Homo sapiens: one gene and its partner. The protein of the gene in region 1 interacts with the protein of each later gene in a biochemical or structural test. Each region holds a gene or a part of one and is shown on either strand. Other genes may lie near its edges.

Region 1 (11,263 bases):
CTTCGTATAGATCTGTTGGCTTCCTGCTGTGAAAGATGGCAACATACACTTTTATCTTCCTCCCCTGCCAGTTCTTACCGAAATAAACATGCAGGGTTAAGGCCCTTCCCAGGGAGCCACTCAGTGTGGCTGCCGGGTGGCCTCTGCTGCCGTCAGAGTCTGCCTTTGTGTCTTTATCTGCTTTGCCTTCCTAGTCCCCGTCCTGCTTCGTGGCCCGGCATCTGGCAGGGCTGGGAGACGCCTCTCCAGCTTCCTCTGGAGCATCCCCTCTGGAGCCTCCTCTCTGCCCTGTTGTGCCGGGCGTTCTCCAGGCCTCGTGGCTGTGGTCCTGGACAGGTCTCCCCACACTGGTGGGTTCCTTTGTTTCGGGGGTTGGATCCTCTAGCTCCCTGGCCCCGTCTTCCTTCTCATTTGTTTTCTCTGGTTTTTGTCCAGCGTATCTTCCTGTAGCTTCTTGAGAAAAGAGGTGCTCAGGAGATAAACTTGAGCTTGGGTTGGTTTGTACTGTGAGAGTGGGATCATTTTCCTGTAAGATTTTTGACGGCATTGCTTATCTTCTAGAGCTAAAGTTGTTACCATGAAGTTTAACCTTTCTGACTCGGTTTCTTTGGGACCAGCCTGAGCAACTTAGTGAAACCCTGTCTCTACAAAAAAAAAAAAAAAATTAAAAATTAAAAATTAAAAAAAAAAAAGGAAAATAGGCAAGGTCTAGCTGCGTTGCCCAGGCTGTAGTGCAGTGAGTGGCAATTCATAGGTGCAAGCATAGCTCACAACAGCCCCAGACTCCCTGGGCTTAAGTAATCTTTCCACCTCAGCCTCCCAAAATTCTCGGATTACAGAGGTAAGCCACCACACCCAGCCAAGAACAGAAACCTTTTGTTTTCCATTTTCTTTTATTTTGAGACATTGTCTTGCTCTGTCACCTGGGCTGAAGTACCGTGGTGCAATCACAGCTCACTGCAGCCTGGACCTCTCAGGCTCACTCCATCCTCCCACCTCCTCCTCCTGAGGACCTGGGACTACAGGTGCGCATTGCCAATGCCTGGCTAGTCTTTTAATTTTTAATAGAGATGGAGTTTCACTACGTTGCCCAGACTGATCTTGAGCTCCTGGGCTGAAGGGATCCTCCCACCTTGGCCTCCCAAAGTACTGGGATCACAGGCATGAGCCGTCACACCTGGCCATGGATGAAAACTTTTTTCTTTTTGTTTCTCTTCTCTTTTCTTGGCTTTCTTTTCTTTTTGAGACAGTCTTGCTCTGTCTTGCTCTGTGAAGTGACATCATCACAGCTCTCAATAGTTTTCACTTCCCAGACCTCCCAAGCTCAAATGATCCTCCCTCCTCAGCCTCCCGAGCAGCTGAGACCACAGGCGCATGCCACCATACCCAGATGATTTTTTAATTTTTTGTAGAGACAGGCCCAGACTGGTCTTGAACTCCTGGGCTCTAGCAGTCCTCCCACCTCGGTCTCCCAGAATGTTGGAATTACAGGCAGGAGCCACCGCGTCCCACTTGTTTTCCATTTTCTGTCATTTTAGGGGCTAGGGGCTAGGGGCTAGAGGAAGCAGAGGTGAACGTCATCATGCATCTTTTTCTAACTGTCTTCTTGCTCACCCCTTTCAGAAAAGCATTGAGCTGGCCGGGCGTAGTAGGTCACGCCTGTAATCCCAGCACTTTGGGAGGCTGAGGTGGGTGGATCACCTGAGGTTGGGAGTTCAAGACCAGCCTGGCCAAAATGGAGAAACCCCATCTCTACTAAAAAAATACAAGATTAGCCAGGTGTGTTAGCAGGTGCCTGTAATCCCAGCTACTCAGGAGACTGAGGCAGGAGAATCACCTGAACCCTGGAGGCGGAGCTTGGAGTGAGCCGAGATTGTGCCATTGTACTCCAGCCTGGGCAACAAGAGCGAGACTCCATCTCAAAAAAAGAAAGAAAAAGAGAAGCATTGAGCTCTTAGGAACGTGACGTGCATCCCCAGCTACACTTCTGTTACCACTTCAGCATCACCTTCCTCCCCGCTTCATCAAGTCTTTTACTCCAGACAGGCTGCAGCTGGTGACATGAAAGACCGGTCAAGGCCAGCTAAGGCATCTGCTTGAGGCCTCCCGTGCCTAGGATGGGGCGCAGCCTGCAGTTGGCTGTCACAGCCTTGTGTCAGAAACACCCTTTAAAATTTAATGTTTCCTTCACGGGTACCCTTTGGCATAAAAAAAGCCCAATCTGAGCCGGACGCAGTGGCTCACGCCTGTAATCCCAGCACATTGGGAAGCCAAGGTGGGTGGATCACGAGGTCAGGAGTTCAAGAACAGCCTGACCAACATGGTGAAACCCCGTCTCTACTAAAAATACAAAAATTAGTTAGGCATGGTGGCACACATGCCTGTAATCCCAGCTACTCAGGAGCCTGAGGTAGGAGAACTGCTTGAACCCAGAAGGCAGAGGTTACAGTGAGCCCAGATCACGCCACTGCACTCTAGCCTGGGCGACAGAGCAAGACTGTCTCAAAAAAAAAAAAAAAAAAAAAAGCTCCATCTGCAGTTATCTGTCGTTAGAGTTTACAAAACAGAGACCTCTTCTGCAGTGTGTCTATCCACATGTAAATATATGTACACAAGATTTAATCTGTTGTTTTGCCCCAAATCTGCCACAAGAGGCTAAGGAAGAGCAAAATAAACGTCGCGATTCGCTTCTCACAGTTCTCAGCCCTTCGCGCTGAACTATTGCTGAGATGGTGGGTTTTGCCAGCAGCCATTGTAGCCCCCGGGCCTGGCTGCATTGCTCACCTCCCTCAGCCTTGTTCTGTCCCTGTCCATGAGATGGAAGTGGCTTTCTCCAGTCAGCTGTGTGTGCAGAGACCGGGGGCTCCGGGCAGAGCCGAGTCCATCAGGACTGGAGGAAGTGCTCACAGCAGGCAGGCTCCCTGGGCCCTGGGTGGGAGGCCTCAGGGATCCCCGTACCTCCTTGCTCACCAGCCAGGCTCGACCTACTGCCCTGTGGGGCAGGTCAGGCTTTTTCCACAGCTCCCTCTCTGGGAGGAGGGTCCTTCCAAGTGAGGGTGTGGTGTAGCTGGAGAATCCCTCTTTCTAGGGGATTTAAATAAGCAGCCCCAGCCGGACGCGGTGGTTCACGCCTGTACTCCCAGCACTTTGGGGGGCCGAGGCGCACAGATCACGAGGTCAGGAGTTTGAGACCAGCCTGGCCAACATAGTGAAACCCCATCTCTACTAAAAAAAACAATACAAAAAGTTAGCTGGGCATGGTGGCAGGTGCCTGTAATCCCAGCTACCTGGGAGGCTGAGGCAGGAGAATGGCTTGAACCCGGAAGGCAGAGGTTGCAGTGAGCTGAGATTGCACCACTGCACTCCAGCCCAGGTGACAGTGCAAGACTCTGTCGCAAAAAAAAAAAAAAAAAAAAAAAAAAAAATTAAATAAGTAAATAAATAAGCAGCCGCATGACCCATGCTGAGGACCCTCTGCCTCACGTTGGTGGCCACGTGTGGTGGCTGCACGCTGGGTGCCTGGGGATGGCTGTGTCCCCGAGTCAGCCCCAGAAGTGCCTACGCCTCTAGGACAGCTCAGAAGTGCTGACAGGTCGTGGCCTCTCAGGATGGGCTCTGGGTTGCAGCTTCATGCCTGGAGTGGCTCATGTTTGGGGGCAAGGTCATGGGCGTTTAAGAGCAGCGACTGGCCAAGAACATGATCTGTATCAGCAGCAGCTTTTGAGAATCTGATGAAATCCCCAGAGCCCCAGAAGGGCACCGGTGTGTTCCAGCTGGTGCACGTTCACAGGGCTTGTCTCCTCAGAGCGTTTATGGGGAAAAAGATGGAAATGTTCAAGCCCAGTCCGTACTGAGAAGCAAATCGAACTTCATACACTTGGTAGACATTTTCAGTGGAAAAATATTAACATTTTATGGAATTCTTACTCTGCTACGTCCCTAGCCAAGCTGTTTGTATGCATGACCTTGGTTAAACCTCAGTTGCCTCTAGACCCCCATTTCATAGGCAAGGAAGCTGGGAGAGGGTCCCCCCATTTCATAGGCAAGGAAACTCGGAGAGGGTCCCCCCATTTCATAGGCAAGGAAGCTCGGAGAGGGTCTCCCATTTCATAGGCAAGGAAGCTGGGAGAGGGTCCCCCCATTTCATAGGCAAGGAAGCTCGGAGAGGATCCCCCCATTTCATAGGCAAGGAAGCTGGGAGAGGGTCCCCCCATTTCATAGGCAAGGAAGCTCGGAGAGGGTCCCCCATTTCACAGGCAAGGAAGCTGGGAGAGGGTCCCCCATTTCATAGGCAAGGAAGCTGGGAGAGGGTCCCCCCATTTCACAGGCAAGGAAGCTGGGAGAGGGTCCCCCCATTTCACAGACAAGTTCAGAGAGGCTCCCCCCATTTCATAGGCAGGGAAGCTGGGAGAGGGTCCCCCCATTTCACAGACAAGTTCGGAGAAGGTCCCCCATTTCATAGGCAAGGAAGCTGGGAGAGGGTCCCCCCATTTCACAGGCAAGGAAGTTCAGAGAGGGTCCCCCCATTTCACAGACAAGGAAGTTCGGAGAGGATCCCCCATTTCATAGGCAAGGAAGCTGGGAGATGGTCCCCCCATTTTATAGGCAAGGAGTCTGGGAGAGTGTCCCCCCATTTCATAGGCAAGGAGGCTGGGAGAGGGTCCCCCCATTTCATAGGCAAGGAGGCTGGGAGAGGGTCCCCCCATTTCATAGGCAAGGAAGCTCGGAGAGGGCCAGTGCTTTTTAACGGTCACGCAGTTCTGAGCATCAGGCTGTCAGCCTGGAGCCTGGCTTGGTACTGAGGTTCCCAGGATGTATAAAGAACTGAACACGCACCTTTGCTGTTGGCTCTTCTGTGCGAGTGCTCTGAGAGTTTTCTGTACTCCCGGCAAGTTTGGGTTGGTACAGATTCACCACAGCGAATCTGACCACGTGGTGACCACAAGCACGCGCTTACTGCGCGCCTAAGTTCACACTCCCTGGAGAAGCTCCTGCCCCAAGGCCGCAGCCTATGGGCCTTTGCGTCTACTCAGGACCATGAGGCTGTGTCCCCGAGCCTGGCCCGGGTAGTAACTGGCATGGCCTGCGGTGCTGGGGGCGTGTCCACAGGAGCTGGTGCCACAGAGGACACGTGTGTCTGCTGTCTTCCTGGACTCGGTCGGACCAGTTTCCCAGTGTGTCCGTGAGGGTGACACTGAGTGAGACTTCTGGGATCCACACCTTTCCTGGGACCCTCACTCTTCCTGCCACAGAAAGCACCTGTGAAAGTCTGAGATCAAGAATGTGCACAGGGGAGGTGTCTGCAGGTCAAGGTCCTGAGCTGATGTCTCACAGGCCTCTGGTAGAGACGAGATTGTTCGTGTCTCTGCGAAGAAGGGCATGTTTTATTGCAGCCAAGTACAAAGTCCTCTCTGCCACTCGCTGGCTGGGACTGAGGTCATGTTCTGTCAGGTTCCAAAGAGCGCCAGGAAGACTCTGAGACCACAGAGCACGGCCTGCTTTCTCCCAGCCCCTGGTAAAGATGTCCAGCCTGGGACCTCCCCCTGTATATAGTGCTTTAAGTGGGAGAAGACCACCACCCAGATCAGGGGAGGACCTGTCCCCTGCAATGCTGCTGCCTGCTTTTCAGATTGACTTGGGAGTGCTTGTGCTGACGGAGCATGTCCTGTGGTTTTTCCCTTTCTTCCCTCTGTTGTTGTGCCTTTTCTGTAGGTACCTGCACCAGTCAGGGGCCCTGACCATGGAGGCCCTGGAGGACCCTTCCCCCGAGCTCATGGAGGGCCCAGAGGAGGACATTGCTGACAAGGTAGGCCCTGGAGGGCTGGGTAGGTGGCAAGTAGGGGATTTAGAACACAGCCACGCCTAAGGGCCGCTGCAGACACCCCGGGAGGTGGGGACAGCACAGCCGGAGGTGACCCCATGTCCTCCAGGGCTCCCCAGACTGTCCATCCAGCCCCGATGCTCTTTGGCAGGTTTCCCCAAGGGGTCTCGTGGCCATGTGAGAAAAAGGAGTCTTCCTGTTGTGCACGAAGGGCCAGCTGGGAGGAGTGGACTGGGCAGTGAGTGAGCACCCTCGGGTATCCCACCCCCACTGTGTCTGAGTCGGGCTGGGGGACACCCAGACATTCAGTCCACCAGGCCCATGGAGACGCGACCTGGGGCACCCATGATTTGGGAGAAAAGGGCTGGCCCTGCAGTTACTGCAGAGCCAACAGCCTGAGGAACGGGCTTCTCCTGGGGCCTTGAATGGAATGGGTGACAGCAGCCAGGGCAAGGCAGCCTTGCCGTGGTCAAGACCCGCTTTTCAGCCAGATGTGGTGGCTCACGCCTGGAATCCCAGCACATTAGGAGGCCTAGGCGGGCAGATCACTTGAGGTCAGGAGTTTGAGATCAGCCTGGCCAACATAGTGAAAACCCGTCTCTACTAAAAATACAAAAGTTAGCCACGCATGGTGGCGGGCAACTGTAATCCCAGCTATTTGGGAGGCTGAGGCAGGAGAATCACTTGAACCTGGGAGGTGGAGGTTGCAGTGAGCCGAGATTGCACGACTGCACTCCAGCCTGGGCGACAGAGGGAGACTCCGTCTCACCTTCTGCACCCCCTCACCTTCTGTGACCCCTTCACTTACTCCTGTACCCCCTCAATTCCTCCTGTACCCCTCATCTCCTCCTGTACCCCCTCACCACCTCCTGTACCCCCTCACCACCTCCTGTACCCCCTCACTACCTCCTGTACCCCCTCACTACCTCCTGTACCCCCTCACCTCCTCCTGTACCCCCTCACCTCCTTGTGTACCCCCTCACCTCCTGTACCCCCTCACCTCCTCCTGTACCCCCCCACCTCCTCCTGTACCCCCTCACCTCCTCTTGCACTCCCATCTCCTCCTGTACCCCCTCACCTCCTTGTGCACCCCCTCACCTCCTGTACCCCCTCACCTCCTCCTGTACCCCCTCACCTCCTCCTGTACCCCCTCACCTCCTCCTGTACCCCCCTCACCTCCTCCTGTACCCCCTCACCTCCTCCTGCACTCCCATCTCCTCCTGTACCCCCTTACCTCCTTGTGCACCCCTCACCTCCTGTACCCCCTCACCTCCTCCTGTACCCCCCTCACCTCTTCCTGCACTCCCATCTCCTCCTGTACCCCCTCACCTCCTTGTGCACCCCTCACCTCCTGTACCCCCTCACCTCCTCCTGTACCCCCCTCACCTCTTCCTGTACCCCCTCACCTCCTCCTGCACTCCCATCTCCTCCTGTACCCCCTCACCTCCTTGTGCACCCCTCACCTCCTGTACCCCCTCACCTCCTCCTGTACCCCCCTCACCTCTTCCTGTACCCTTCACTTCCTCCTGTACCCCCTCACCTCCTCCTGCACCCCCCTTACCTCCTGTACCCCCTCACCTCCTCCTGTACCGCCTCACCTCCTCCTATACCCCCTCACCTCCTCCTATACCCCCTCACCTCTTCCTGCACCCTCCTCACCTCCTCCTGCACCCCCATCTCCTCCTGTACCCCCCTCACCTCCTGTACCCCCTCATCTCCTGTACCCCCTTACCTCCTCCTGCACCCCTCACCTCCTGTACCCCCTCACCTCCTCCTGCTCCCCCACCTCCTCCTATACCCCCATCTCCTCCTGTACTCTCTCACCTCCTCCTGTACCTCCTCACCTCCTCCTGTACTTCACCTCCTCTTGCATCCCCACCACCTCCTCCCTACAACTTCTCTAGCATCTCAAGTCTGCTGACCCAGGCCAAGTCCTCCTCTGCTCCCTTCACTCCTTCTCCTACCTCCGCAGGTGTCTGATTCTCATCTTGGTGTGAACTCTCTGAGGGAGGGACCGAGACATGGATCTGTCTGTCCCTTGCATCCATGGGCACCTGGGCTGCCTCTGTGAGCTGCATCTGGCTGAGCAGAGACCCAACTGTGTGTTGGGGGGCTGAGTCTTGCTGCCCACCAGCCAGCCAGTCCAAAGGCACCCCTGGGCCCCGAGCCCTCAGAGCTGCGGCACTGTGTGCATTTGTGGGTCGAATGACAGTGCTCCCCAAGACCCCGGCCCCATTAGGAGCTGCACCTTTGTGGGTTTATGGGACAAGTTGGATCCAACACCAGCCTAGCTAGGTGGATCTGATTCTGTGCTGAGAAAATCCCCAGGCGGCCTCCCAGGTTGTTCCCTTGGGGGTGCAGGCCCTTCTGCTTCTGGCTGCCTGACCCTGAAGCCTGGTCTCATTGCCAAGGTTGTCTTCCTGGAAAGGCGTGTGCTGGAGCTGGAAAAGGACACGGCAGCCACCGGTGAGCAACACAGCCGCCTGAGGCAGGAGAACCTGCAGCTGGTGCACAGGTGAGCCTGGGCCAGGAGACCCGGGCCTCTGCGTGGCGCCTCCTGTGCCCGCCTGTCAGCCCCCATTTACTTCTCTTTACCTCACACAGCAGGGGCTTGGCCACCCGTCCATCCCCGTTGGAAGCCGGCTGAGGGGGTGGTGCCAGGTGGTCATCTGAGCCTACCCAGTGGGCTGCAGGCAGGCGACCCGAGGCTCTGACTGGTGCTCTCATGGAACCCTAGACACACAGAGGGCCAGAGGAGGGCACTGCCTCCCTCTCGGGAGCGCTGAGACCTGACCCACACAGAGGAGGAACTGACTGCGAACCCACGCAGTGCTCAGCCTCACCAGCAGGCCTGGAGGTGCAGCTCTCCCACCACTCTGGTCCATACGGGGTTTGCCCGTCCTGGAAGAATGCAGGTTAGAGAAGTCGCTCAGCAGCAGAAAGCGAAATGAGCAGTGACTGCTGAGTACGCGACAGGACGCGCAGTCTCATCGCTGTGGGCAGGAGTGCTGGGGAGGAAGCGAAGTGTGACGCCGTGTTTGCAGAGAAAGAGTGGGAGCTGCTTGCCTCACTCTGGTTTGCAGACTTTTCTTAGAATACCGTGTAATTCTCGGTGTTTTTCACACGAGGCACGCCATGTTGTCTCATAGCCGATTTGCAGGACTGTTTCCGGTGCAAAGTAAGATGAGCTTGTCCCAGGAGTCAGCTACCCAGGCTATGACACCTGTAGCTGGGCACCGGCAGCCTCTTGTGGGCAGAGGAGGCAGCCAGGAGGCCTATGAGGCACCTGTGGGATCTGCAGAAGAGGTTCTTCCTGTGAGCTTCTGTCCCTGCCCAGCTGCGCGGGCACATCCCGGCTCTTCCACATATTCTCAGCTCGGCCAAGGGCCCTGTCCCTTGAAGCTTCAGTGTCTTCATCACCACTGAGCAGGTAGATTCAGGGCTCTGAGCAGCCTGCACACACGTGTGTTGGCAGCAGGGCATTTGTGGTCAGCATCCCCAAAGCCCCCAAGCCCTCACCCTCACGGTACTAACATTTGTGACCATCTGCCCTGTGAGCGCTGAGAATTGGAATGCCTCATGGGATTGTGGGCATAACTTGCACATCATTTTAATTCTAACAAAGCAAAGCATGTGCTCTTGTGGAGTGAAGACCCTGGGCTTGGCGGCTGCCCGTTCTCCAGGATTCTCAGCAGAAGAGGGCCTGCTACCAGCCCCTGCTGCAGAGTGGAGAGGGGCCAGGCATGCTGGTGAAGGGGCTGGACTCCCGTAGTGCGCTACACATAAGCAGTGCCACCAAAGACCACTGTCTCCTCCTTGTCAAGGAGAATCCGGGGGGCTGCCAGATGCACTTGTTTTGTTTTGTTTTTTGAGAGACAGGGCCTCGCTCTGTTGCTCAGGCTGAGTGCTGACTACAGCCTCCACCTCCCAGGCTCAAGCGACCCGCCTCCCTCAGCCTTCGATGTAGCTGGGACTACAGGTGTGCACCACCACACCCAGCTTTTTTTTTTTTTTTTTTGAGACGGGGTCTCTCTCTGTCTCCAGGCTGGAGTGCAGTGGCGCAATCTTGGCTCACCGCAACCTCCGCATCCCAGGTTCAAGCGATTCTTCTGCCTCAGCCTCCTGAGTAGCTGGGACTTGCAGGCATGCACCACCACGCTGGGCTAATTTTTGTATTTTTAGTAGAGACGGGGTTTCACCATATTGACCAGGCTGGTCTTGAACTCCTGACCTTGTGATCTGCCTGCCTCAGCCTCCCAAAATGCTGGGATTACAGGCGTGAGCCACCGTGCCCGGCCTAGTTTTTAATTTTTTTATAGAGATGAGGTCTTGCCATGTTGCCCATGCTGGTCTCAAACGCCTGGCCTCAAGCGATCCTCCCACCTTGGCCCCCCAAAGTGCTGAAATCAGAGGCGTGAGCCACCATGTCCAGCCTAGATGCCTTTGTCGAGTTGACTGTGGAGGTTTCATTTGAGTCTGGAGTATGTTCATCTGTTTTCCGTGTGTGTGGTGTGAAGTCCACACTGCCGCCTGGCACCACCCACTGACCGTCTGCAGTGCAGCCCCGGCCACATTCAGTTCCTGTGGCTGTTCCCTGTGGTGCTCACCTCCAACGTCCTAAACAACACGTTTCCCGTTTTCAGTATCATCTGCCCGTTCTGAGCCATTTGCTCTCTAGCCCTACCATACAGCTGCCATCCTAAGAGTACGTTTCCCGTTTTCAGTATCATCTGCCCGTTCTGAGCCATTTGCTCTCTAGCCCTACCATACAGCTGCCATCCTAAGAGTACGTTTCCCGTTTTCAGTATCATCTGCCCGTTCTGAGCCATTTGCTCTCTAGCTGTGCCGTACAGCTGCCATCCTAGGAATTCCGAGTGCTTTCTCCTGTGTTTGATTCCTTATTTTCTGGGTCCCACGTTTTCTTCTGTTTTGCCAACTCATTTTCTGAGTATGTCACTGATAGTTGCCTGGAAAAGGGAGCACAGGAGCCAGATGCTCTGAGAACTGCTTGTGTGGAAGTGCTTTTTCCTCCCACCCTGCTCCAGTCCATAGTGTAGCTGGGCATAAAATTCTAGGTCAGAGATCGAATTCCCTGAGAATGTGAAGACCTCTGACCCGGTGCTGTGACTGAGGAACCTCTGGTGCCGCAGGGCCTTGATGTTCTCTGTAACTTCTGTTTCCCACCCTACATACTTGGAGGAGGATCTTGTATTATTTGCCGTGCTGTGCACCTGGTTTTCAGCCTTTATTTCGTTTTGTTTTGTTTTGTTTTGTTTTTTGAGACAGAGCCTTGCTGTGTCACCCAGGCTGGAGTGCAATGGCACAATCTCCGCTCACGGCAACCTCCGCCTCCCGGGTTCAAGTGATTCTCCTGCCTCAGCCTCCCAAGTAGCTGGGATTACAGGCATGCGCCACTGTGCCCGGCTGATTTTTGTATTTTTA
Region 2 (11,263 bases), on another chromosome or scaffold:
TTCTCCATAGCTTGCTCATTTTTTCTAGGGCACTGAGAGCATTTTTGTACAACATATTCTTTTGAAACAGCTTATTCTTCATGTGGAAATAGGCAAAGAGAGAGAGAGAGAGAACACATTGTTTGTTATTTACTGTAGCCCTAATCCCCAGGACCTGTATCCAAGTTGTTTGATGGAATAATTTTATCTTCTGTGCTTCAGATCTGCTTGGCATTAAAGTTACGGGTCTTTGTCTCCTTTCTAGCGCTCTACTAGCCGACAGTTTGTTGATGGTCCCCCTGGACCTGTAAAGAAAACTCGTTCCATTGGCTCTGCAGTAGACCAGGTAAGAATAGTCAGGCCAAGGTAACAGAGATTACTGGCCCCAAGCATTAAAACTTCTCTGAGTCAGCATTGCAGCATTGTTTTGAGAGACATGATGTTTAGTTAAAGTTTTTGTTTGTTTTTTGAGACAGAGTTTTGTTCTTGTAGCCCAGGCTGGAGTGCAATGGCACCATCTTGGCTCACTGTAACCTCCACCTTCCAGGTTCAAGTGATTCTCTTGTCTCAGCCTCCCACGTAGCTGGGATTACAGGCGCATGCCACCACGTCTGGCTAATTTTTGTATTTTTAGTAGAGACAGGGTTTCATCATATTGGTCAGGCTGGTCTCGAACTCCTGACCAGGTGATCTACCTGCCTCAGCCTCCCAAAGTGCTGGGATTACAGGCGTGAGCCTCCGTGCCTGGCCTTTGGTTAAAGTTTTTCTATGCAGTAGGATCCTTATCCCTATGAATGGAATTACTCTGATGTAGTAAACAACTGTCAGAGTGAGTCTTAGTTGCTTGAATATATACCCCCATGACCTATGTTTATCTTCTTAGGTACGAGATTTCTTTATTTTTACTTTTTAAAGTAGAGGGGGAGTCTCTCCTTGCTGCCCAGGATGACTCGAACTGCGGGGCTCAAGTGATCTTCCCACCTTGGCCTCCCAAAATGCTGGGATTGCAGGCATGAGCCACTGCACCCAGCCAAACATCAGATTTCAACATAAGAATGTTTCAGGTCAGGCGTGGTGGCTCACGCCTGTAATCCCTGCACTTTGGGAGGCCTAGGCAGGTGGATGATCACCTGAGGTCAGGAGTTCGAGACCAGCCTGGTCAACATGGCGAAATCCCGTCTCTACTAAAAATACAAAAATCAGTCGGCCAGGCGCGGTGGCTCACGCCTGTAATCCTAGCACTTTGGGAGGCTGAGGCGGGTGGATCACGAGGTCAGGAGATTGAGACCATCCTGGCTAACACAGTGAAACCCCATCTCTACTAAAAATACAAAAAATTAGCTGGGCATGGTGGCAGACGCCTGTAGTCCCAGCTACTCGGGAGGCTGAGGCAGGAGAATGGCGTGAACCCGGGAGGTGGAGCTTGCAGTCAGCCGATATTGGGCCACTGTACTCCAGCGTGGGCGACACAGCGAGACTCCGTCTCAAAAAAAAAAAAATCAGTCAGGTGTGGTGGCGCATGCTTGTAATCCCAGCTACTCAGAAGGCTGAGGCAGGAGAATGCCTTGAACCTGGGAGGCGGAGGTTGCAGTGAGCCGAGATCACGCCACTGTTCTCCAGCCTGGGCGGTAGAGTGAAAAACTCTGTCTCAAAAAAAAAGTATCAGACTGGGGTCTTAAGTCTTGACTAAGACTAAGGAATTTTTTACCTGCTCCAAAATACCCTATAGTGGAGGGTAAGTTAGATTCTTTGTTTGTCTTTCCTCATTACTACTTTTGTTGCAGGGGAATGAATCCATAGTTGCAAAAACTACAGTGACTGTTCCCAATGATGGCGGGCCCATCGAAGCTGTGTCCACTATTGAGACTGTGCCATATTGGACCAGGAGCCGAAGGAAAACAGGTCCATTGAATTTGTGACTAAACTGGCCTGTGTAAAACAACTAGCAAAATTTTGGAGAGTTGGTTTCTTAGAACCCTCTGGAGGCGGGGATTGGATGTATTGGGTAGTTTCTTACTGCTGCATACCGAGGACCAGAGAACTGCTTGTGTCATGCTTTACCTTTGAATTGCTAGCCCACTGGCATAACTTTAGTTTTTCTTGAAACTGTTTTTTTACATAGCCATTAGTTCTCACTTTTGGCTATGATAACAGATTACTGTTTATCTCCCAGTTAAAATTGGAGCTAAAATTTAGAAGGAGCAAAATACTTAAGACACAAAGCTTAAAAGTTGCTTGTTTTCTAGGTACTTTACAACCTTGGAACAGTGACTCCACCCTGAACAGCAGGCAGCTGGAGCCAAGAACTGAGACAGACAGTGTGGGCACGCCACAGAGTAATGGAGGGATGCGCCTGCATGACTTTGTTTCTAAGACGGTAAATCTGTGATTGTTGTTTGTGTTTTAATTTTTTAATTGTGAAAGTAATAAATACCAGGAATAAAGTTAAATACTTTAGTGTTATAAAGTTAAATGTCAAATTTCCTTCCTCATTCCAATTTTACTCTCCAGAAGTAACTATTGGTTACAGAGGTAAGTTTCTTTCCATTCTGTGAGTAATACTAAATTAAAGAGACCAACTTTTCTGAAGCAATTGTTAGTACTTTTTTTTTTTTAATTTGAGACAGAGTCTTACTCTGTCACCCAGGCTGGAGTGCAGGGGTGTAATCATAGCTCACTGTAGCCTTAACCTCCCAGTCTCAAGCAATCCTCCTGCCTCAGCCTCCTGAGTAGTAGGGATACAGATGTGTGCCACCACGCCCGGCTAATTTTTAAATTTTTTGTAGAGACTTGGTCTTGCTATGTTGCTCAGGCTGGTCCTGAACTCCTGGGCTCAAGTGCTCCCCCTGCCTCAGCTCCCAAAGTCCTGGGATTACAGGCATGAGCTACTGTGCCTGGCCCATTGTTAGTACTTTTTAGTGACACATGTTTACATTTTTTCTTGAATATATCACCTAAGATTTTCAAAATGTTTTGCTTTTGTACCATTTTATTTCCTTATAAAAATCCAAGCAAATTAACTGAGGCTCAGAGGAGTTAACTGACATTTTTGAGCCACATGATAGTAAGTGACAGATTTCACATCCAGGTTTTCTTTTTTTCTTTTTTTTTCTTGAGACAGAGTCTCACTCTGTTGCCCAGGCTGGAGTGCAGTGGTGCGATTTCGGCTCACTGCAACCTCTGCCTCCCGGGTTCAAGCAATCCTCCTGCCTCAGCCTCCCGAGTAGCTGGGATTACAGGTGCCCACCACCATGCCCGGCCAATTTTTTGTACTTTTAGTAGAGATGGGGTTTCACCATGTTGGCCAGGCTGGTCTCAAACTACTGACCTCAGGTGATCCTCCCGCCTCAGCCTCCCAAAGTGCTGGGATTACAGGCGTGAGCCACCATGCCCTGCCAACATCCAAGTTTTCTGCTCTTTGTAAACAAGTTCTTTCCACTATCACACACTGCTGCCTTCCAGTGGGATGACCTTAAACAAGTTACTTAAACTCTCTTTGCTTCTGTTTCCTCATCTTAAAATGAAGAAAACAAAACCTATTTTATGGGATTACTGTGAGAATTACATATGTAAATATGTCTAAAGGGCTTAGAAAATTTTTTGGCACATACTAAGTGCTCAATAAATGTTAGTTGATTATGGCTGGGCACAGTGGCTCACGCCTGTAATCCCAGCACTTAGGGAGACTGACGCAGGCAGATCACCTGAGGTCGGGAGTTCGAGACCAGCCTGACCAACATGGAGAAACCCCGTCTCTACTAACAATATAAAAATTAGCCGGGCGTGGTGGCGCATGCCTGTAATCCCAGCTACTTGGGAGGCTGAGGCAGGAGAATCGCTTGAACCCGGGAGGTGGAGGTTGCAGTGAGCCAACCTCTACCACGCCATTGCACTCCAGCCTGGGCAACAAGAGCGAAACTCTGTCTCAAAAAAAGACAAAAAAAGGCCAGGCCCAGTGGCTCACGCCTGTAATCCCAGCACTTTGGGAGGTCGAGGTGGGTGAATCACAAGGTCAGGAGTTCGAGACCAGCCTGGCCAACATGGTGAAACCCTGTCTCTACTAAAAATACGAAAAATTAGCTGGGCGTAGTGGTGGGCACCTGTAATCCCAGTTACTCGGGAGGCTGAGACAGGAGAATCGCTTGAACCTGGGAGGCAGAGGTTGCAGTGAGCTGAAATCACACCACTGCACTCCAGCCCAGGCGAGAGAGTGAGATTCGGTCTCAAAAAAAAAAAAAAAAAAAAGTTAGTTGATTATGATGATAATTTTCTAATTCATATCACTCTGTTCCTTCTGCCCTGTTTTATCCCAGGTTATTAAACCTGAATCCTGTGTTCCATGTGGAAAGCGGATAAAATTTGGCAAATTATCTCTGAAGTGTCGAGACTGTCGTGTGGTCTCTCATCCAGAATGTCGGGACCGCTGTCCCCTTCCCTGCATTCCTACCCTGATAGGAACACCTGTCAAGATTGGAGAGGTATGACTTATGCAAGCCGTCATTGTTTTATGGCCTCTTTATTCGCCTTTCAAAGGCTTAGTGTCAGTTTTTGTTCTAAAATTAATCATCTCAAATATATTTCTTTCCACAAATAATGACTAGAATTGTAAGATACTTACTTGTAGAAGAGTCCTGTTTGGGTTTGTCTGTCTAATACCTTTCTAAACCAAACTTCTTTCCCCGCCCCTTTTTCCTTCTTGCTCTTCCCTGCTTCTCCTTGCCTCTTCTTCCTTCCTTCCTCCCCTTCATCCCATTTTGGAAAATTTCAGACATATATAAAACTAGAGAAATTAGTATAACTAACCCCTGGTTCTTATCACTTAACTTCCATGATTACTAACTTGTGTCCATTTTTTTTTTTTTTTTTTTTTTTTTTTTTTTTTTTTTTTTAGCTCTATTGCCTAGGCTGGAGTGCACTGGCAGGATGTCAGCTCACTGCAACCTCCGCCCCCCTGGGCTCAAGCGATTTTCTTGCCTCAGCCTCCCAAGTACCTGGAATTACAGGCATGTACCACCACCATGCCCGGCTAATTTTTTTTGGTTGTATTTTTTAGTAGAGATGGGGTTTCATCATGTTGGCCAGGGTGGTCTCAAGCTCCTGACCTCAAGTGATCCGCCCACCTCAGCCTCTCAAAGTGCTGAGACTACAGGCGTGAGCCACCGCGCCTGGTCATGTCCATTCTTTTTTTAATGTCTCTCTTTTTTTTGAGACAGAGTTTCCCTGTTGTCCAGGCTGGATTGCAGTGTTGCAACTTTGGCTCACTGCAGCCTCTGTCTCCTGGGCTCAAGTGATTCTCATGCCTCAGCCTCCCAAGTTGCTGGGACTACAGCCATGTGCCACCATGCTCAACTAATTTTTTTGTATTTTTAGTAGAGACGGGGTTTTGCCATGTTGGCCAGGCTGGTCTTGAACTCCTGACCTCAAGTGATCCGCCTGCCTCGGCCTCCTAAAGTGTTGGGATTCTAGGTGTGAGCCATGGCACCCAGCCTTTATGTCTGTTCTTGATTTATCAATACTGTCGTTGCCTCCTCCTGACTCTGTCCAATGAATTACTTGGAAGCAAATCTCAGCTATCATATAATTTTATCTGTGATAAAATTATCTTTTATTCTTGCTCTTATGTTAGACATACTTCATAATAGGTTATCAAAATGAAGTTGCTTATTTCCAAATATTTAACCAGTTTAATCCAAACTGATTAAATCCATTAAGAAATTATTTATTGCTGAGTGTGGTAGCTCATGCCTGTAATCCCAGCACTTTGGGAGGCTGAGGCAGGAAAATCACTTGAGCCCAAGAGTTTGAGACCAGCCTGGACAACAAAGCAAGACTCCATCTCTACAAAGAATAAATAAATAAGTTAGCCAGGTTAGTGGTGTGCGCCTGTGTTTGTAGCTCCTCAGGAGGCTAGGTTGGACTATTGCTTGAGGTGGGGAGGTTGAAACTGCAGTGAGCTGTGATCACACCACTGCACTCCAGCCTGGGGAATAGAGCAAGACCCTATCTCAAAAAAAAAAAAAATTATTATGTAAGTAACATTAGCAAGAATCAAAATGACTATCTTCCTACCTACTCTTCAGCAAATCAAATATTATTTTCCCCTGATCTTACAAGTTCTTATCCATGCCTGTACATTTTGTTTTGTTTTGTTTTGTTTTGTTTTGTTTTTGAGAGGGAGTTTTGTTCTTGTTGCCCAGGCTGGAGTGCAATGGCGCAATCTCGACTCACCACAACCTCCACCTCCTGGGTTCAAGCGATTCTCCTGCCTCAGCCTCCCTCATAGCTGGGATTACAGGCATGCGCCACCATGCCTGGCTAATTTTGTATTTTTAGTAGAGACAGGGTTTCTCCATGTTAGTCAGGCAGGTCTCGAACTCCTGACCTCAGGTGATCCGCCCACCTCGGCCTCCTACAGTGCTGGGATTACAGGCGTGAGCTACCGCACCTGGCCGCCTGTACATTTTTTTTACACATGTTCTGTACTCTAATATAGAACCATGGAGTTCTCCCCTACAGGTAGGTTTGTGTCATAATCAACTGATAAGATATGTTAAATAATTTTTTTTACTGAGAATAATGAAAGTATACACAATTTTTTTCTCTTGTTCCAGCTTTCTTCTGTTAGAAAAAAAAATCTGTTTAGAGTAATAAATTATTTTATATTAAAGGCTATACCTGTAACCTCATTATTGCTTGTTTTCTGCTGTCCTTGAGTGGATGAGAAGGAGGTAATTATAGCTGGTGGTCTTATTCCTTGTTCACATAACAGTGTGGTGTATATATGAAAAAGAAAAAGTGTGGTATATATGATAATAAATCAGTCCTGGTGTGGAGGTAGGAAAAATAATTGAGAGTCTCTGTTTTAATATATGCTTTGGGAATAGGAATGTAAAAGTAGACATGATGTCCCAGTTTGAGAATAAGATTGGAGGTGGTTCTTCGCATGTGGTCTTCATCTGTTGGTCTACATGGCGTAAATAATAATTTAAAGCTCTTTTTTTTTTCCAGGGAATGCTGGCAGACTTTGTGTCCCAGACTTCTCCAATGATCCCCTCCATTGTTGTGCATTGTGTAAATGAGATTGAGCAAAGAGGTCTGACTGAGGTAAGAGTCAACTGTAGGAGATGGTGAATTTGTTATTTGTGTTAATTCGGAGGTTTTTAAATAAAAATGTCATCTTGATAATAGACAGGCCTGTATAGGATCTCTGGCTGTGACCGCACAGTAAAAGAGCTGAAAGAGAAATTCCTCAGAGTGAAAACTGTACCCCTCCTCAGCAAAGTGGATGATATCCATGCTATCTGTAGCCTTCTAAAAGACTTTCTTCGAAACCTCAAAGAACCTCTTCTGACCTTTCGCCTTAACAGAGCCTTTATGGAAGCAGCAGGTAAGGGCAGATGTAATACTTGAATATGAATTCCTCCACGGCAGTAGTTTTTCTTACTCTCTTTATTTTTTTATTTATTTTTTATTTTTTAGACAGAGTCTCACTCTCGCCCAGGCTGAAGTCAGTGGCGCAATCTCAGCTCACTGCAACCTCCGTCTCCCAGGTTGAAGCGATTCTCCTGCCTCAGCCTCCTGAGTAGCTAGGATTACAGGCGTGTGCCACCATGCCTGGTTAATGTTTTCTATCTTTAGTAGAGATGGGGTTTCACCATGTTAGCCAGGATGGTCTCGATCTCCTGCCCTGTGATTTGCCTGCCTCGGCCTCCCAAAGTGCTGCGATTACAGGCGTGAGCCACCGTGCCCAGCCTCTTTTTTTTTTTTTTTTAAGACGGAGTCTTTCTCTGTCGCCCAGGCTGGAGTGCAGTGGCGCTATCGGCTCACTGCAAACTCCGCCTCCTGGGTTCAAGCGATTCTCCTGCCTCAGCCTCCTGAGTAGCTGAGATTACAGGCGTTAACGGTGTTATACCATGTTAGCCAGGCTGGTCTCAAACTCCTGACCTCAGGTGATCTACCCACCTTGTCCTCCCAAAGTGCTGGGATTACAGGCATGAGCCACCACACCTGGCCACCTTCCTCTTTTTATTAGCTCCTGCCTAGTACAATGCCTGAAACATAGTAGGTGCTCAAGTAGTTTGATGGATGAGTAACTGTATGCGTGTCACCCTTGCCTATCCTCTTGCTTTCTCATTACGTTATTGTGTACAGTGTTCTTCCTTTCTTTCCTTCCTCTCCAGTTAGGTTGGAGCTTTTTCAATTCTTAGAATATACCAAGTTTACTCCCTACCTTAAGGCCTTCACATTTGTTGTCTCAACCTGAATGCTCTTACATTAGATACAGTATGGTTTGCTCCTTTATTTCTTTCATATTTCTCTTCATATACCTTGTCCCCAGAAACACCTTTCCTGACAACCTTGTCTAGATTAACAGCTCTCATTTCTTTCTAGCTTCTTGCCTGCCTTGTTTTCTTCATTTATGTATCACTCTACCTGATAGGTATTTGCTTTTTGACTGACTCCACCAATAGAATGTAGGTTCCATAAGATAAGGGCTTTGTTTACTTCTGCTTTATCCTCAGCACTTGTACCTGGCACATCGTAGGCCCTTAAATATGTCTCATGAATGAATACCTTCTTGGTAATTGTAGTCACTGCAATTGTATGCCTGTCTGCCTAGCACATCAGTTGCCAACTGCTTTCCCTAACTGCAAAGGCCGATTTTTTAAAAGTTTTGACTTCTAATATTGAGCTGTTGGCCAGTATCCTGCTTGTTAATGAAACTAGAGTCTGATGTAGTCATGAACTAATCAGGAGTTTCAGAAGCTTACTGTATAGATGAGACTTTGTGGTCGATAACTTGGAAGCCCGCTGTCAAGGGAAAGAAGTCTAGGCCTCTTGGTGCTTTCTTTTCAATTACAGAAATCACAGATGAAGACAACAGCATAGCTGCCATGTACCAAGCTGTTGGTGAACTGCCCCAGGCCAACAGGGACACATTAGCTTTCCTCATGATTCACTTGCAGAGGTGAGTACAGCAGAAACTTGTTCTGGGAGTTAGGGAATTTTTTTCCAAGGGGAAGATAATGTGGGTTGAGTGTTTGGGAGTATGAGGGATGAATTGTTTTCTTATAGAATTTATATTTTGGTCTGCATTTAAGCAAGGAGCAAGACTTCTAATTTAATATTCTTTTGCTTAGAGTGGCTCAGAGTCCACATACTAAAATGGATGTTGCCAATCTGGCTAAAGTCTTTGGCCCTACAATAGTGGCCCATGCTGTGCCCAATCCAGACCCAGTGACAATGTTACAGGACATCAAGCGTCAACCCAAGGTAGGCAGGTGCGTGTGTGTGTGTATGTGAACTTGTGTAATGTGATAACTTGAAAGACAGTTGAGAAGCCCTGAGCTTTGGAAGTTTGCTAACAGATTTGCTGGCTTTTAGGTGGTTGAGCGCCTGCTTTCCTTGCCTCTGGAGTATTGGAGTCAGTTCATGATGGTGGAGCAAGAGAACATTGACCCCCTACATGTCATTGAAAACTCAAATGCCTTTTCAACACCACAGACACCAGATATTAAAGGTAAGGCCCAAGATGTGCTTCTTCAGGGACTTGACTCTCTCTTTAGTTTTAGTCATATGACCTCTTCCTGCCTTTGCTAGAGCTGTTTGAAAATTCTAACATTAAAGGAAAATTTGTATAATTCTACCATCGTAATTTTTTTTTGCTTTTCCATGTTCTCCTTTCTTTATCCATATGGATATATGTTTTTTAAATATAGATATAATAGGCTGGGCATGGTGGCTCACACCTGTAGTCCCAGCACTTTGGGAGGGAGGCTGAGGCGGACGGATCACAAGGTCAGGGGATTGAGACCATTCTGGCCAACATGGTGAAACCCCATCTCTACTAAAAATACAAAAATTAGCTGGGTGTGGTGGCGCATGCCTGTAATCCCAGCTACCAGGGCGGCTGAGGCACAAGGAATTGCTGGAACCCAGGAGGCGGAATTTGCAGTGAGCTGAGATCCCGCCACTGCACTCCAGCCTGGTGACAGAGTGAGACTCTGTCTAAAAAAAAAAAAAAAAAAAAAAAAAAAATATATATATATATATATATATAATAGTTTAAATATAATTCATTCTTATTTCACTTAGCATGTTGTGAGAACTTTTTCTCATGTATAATCTTATTTATCATTTACTTAAATGTTCTAGTAGGTATTAACATTATTTTTCAATTTTTCATAATTACAAGTAATGCTATAGTCAATATAGCATTTCTCTTAATGATAAATTCCTAAGAGTGGGATCACTGAATTAAATGGCTTGAACATTTTTATGTGTCTTGGTATGTTTTACCAACTTGATTTATTAAATTTCTTATAGGCTTTTGCCAATTTATATTGCTAACCAACAATTTTATATGAATAGGCTGGTTTCACTCCAGTCTCACTGGCATTGGAGACCCATTCTTTCATTATTGCAAGTTCCTTCTAAGGGAGCATATTGCTTCTTCTAGTATAGCTAAAAGTCAGATGTTTAGATGTTAGATTTGTGAAGTGTGGAGTTAGAGAATGGCCTAAATCAGGACGTGTCAGCTATTCATTGAGTTCAAAAGATACACTAGTGTGTTACAGAATGATGACAAAAATGATCTCTGGGACTTTGCTAGATGTCTAACCTTAGCTCTTAAGTGCTTCAGAGGGTAATCAGCTTAAAACTAGCCATCTAAAAAGATGCCTTCTTTTTTCCCACCTCTCTTAAAAATATGTCTGAACTTTGAAGTGAGTTTACTGGGACCTGTGACCACTCCTGAACATCAGCTTCTCAAGACTCCTTCATCTAGTTCCCTGTCACAGAGAGTCCGTTCCACCCTCACCAAGAACACTCCTAGGTATGCAGAATTGGCCTTCCTAGGAAATAAAAAACAACTACTTTCTTAGACTTCTTATTATATTGAAGCTTATTGAAAGAAAAATTGCATTCGATTTTAGCTAGCAACTAGACTTTAAAAGGGAACGTGGGGCTATAAGGATTCCTTCTTTAAAAAGGTTCTGAAAGTCTTTACTATTTCCCCTCTCTCGTTGTTGGTGACTAAGAATACTTAAGCAACTATTGCAAAATAGTTGTCTAGGGTTTCCTACTTATAATGGGTTATATCAAGTAATATTATAGTTGTTTATTCAACCATTTTTTATAGAATATTTTTCCAGTTCATTCTCTTTTTATTGTAGATTTGGGAGCAAAAGCAAGTCTGCCACTAACCTAGGACGACAAGGCAACTTTTTTGCTTCTCCAATGCTCAAGTGAAGTCACATCTGCCTGTTACTTCCCAGCATTGACT

The links.
Region 2: the proteins of RAB11FIP3 (region 1) and RACGAP1 form a complex in vitro, tested with the Homo sapiens proteins (one study listed by IntAct).

Annotation. Positions count from the first base shown.
Region 1 is NC_000016.10:497,292-508,554, forward strand, and holds part of RAB11FIP3 (rab11 family-interacting protein 3), read left to right. Parts: coding exon of another isoform or gene 1-10; exon of another isoform or gene 11-2,696; intron 2,697-5,712; coding exon 5,713-5,806; intron 5,807-5,972; coding exon of another isoform or gene 5,973-6,002; exon of another isoform or gene 6,003-6,374; intron 6,375-8,232; coding exon 8,233-8,336; intron 8,337-11,263. UniProt on the Homo sapiens protein: Downstream effector molecule for Rab11 GTPase which is involved in endocytic trafficking, cytokinesis and intracellular ciliogenesis by participating in membrane delivery. Recruited by Rab11 to endosomes where it links Rab11 to dynein motor complex.
Region 2 is NC_000012.12:49,990,234-50,001,496, reverse strand, and holds part of RACGAP1 (rac GTPase-activating protein 1), read left to right. Parts: intron 1-244; coding exon 245-325; intron 326-1,763; coding exon 1,764-1,881; intron 1,882-2,225; coding exon 2,226-2,356; intron 2,357-4,292; coding exon 4,293-4,457; intron 4,458-6,987; coding exon 6,988-7,083; intron 7,084-7,167; coding exon 7,168-7,366; intron 7,367-8,841; coding exon 8,842-8,947; intron 8,948-9,119; coding exon 9,120-9,252; intron 9,253-9,363; coding exon 9,364-9,499; intron 9,500-10,704; coding exon 10,705-10,813; intron 10,814-11,153; coding exon 11,154-11,229; 3' UTR 11,230-11,263.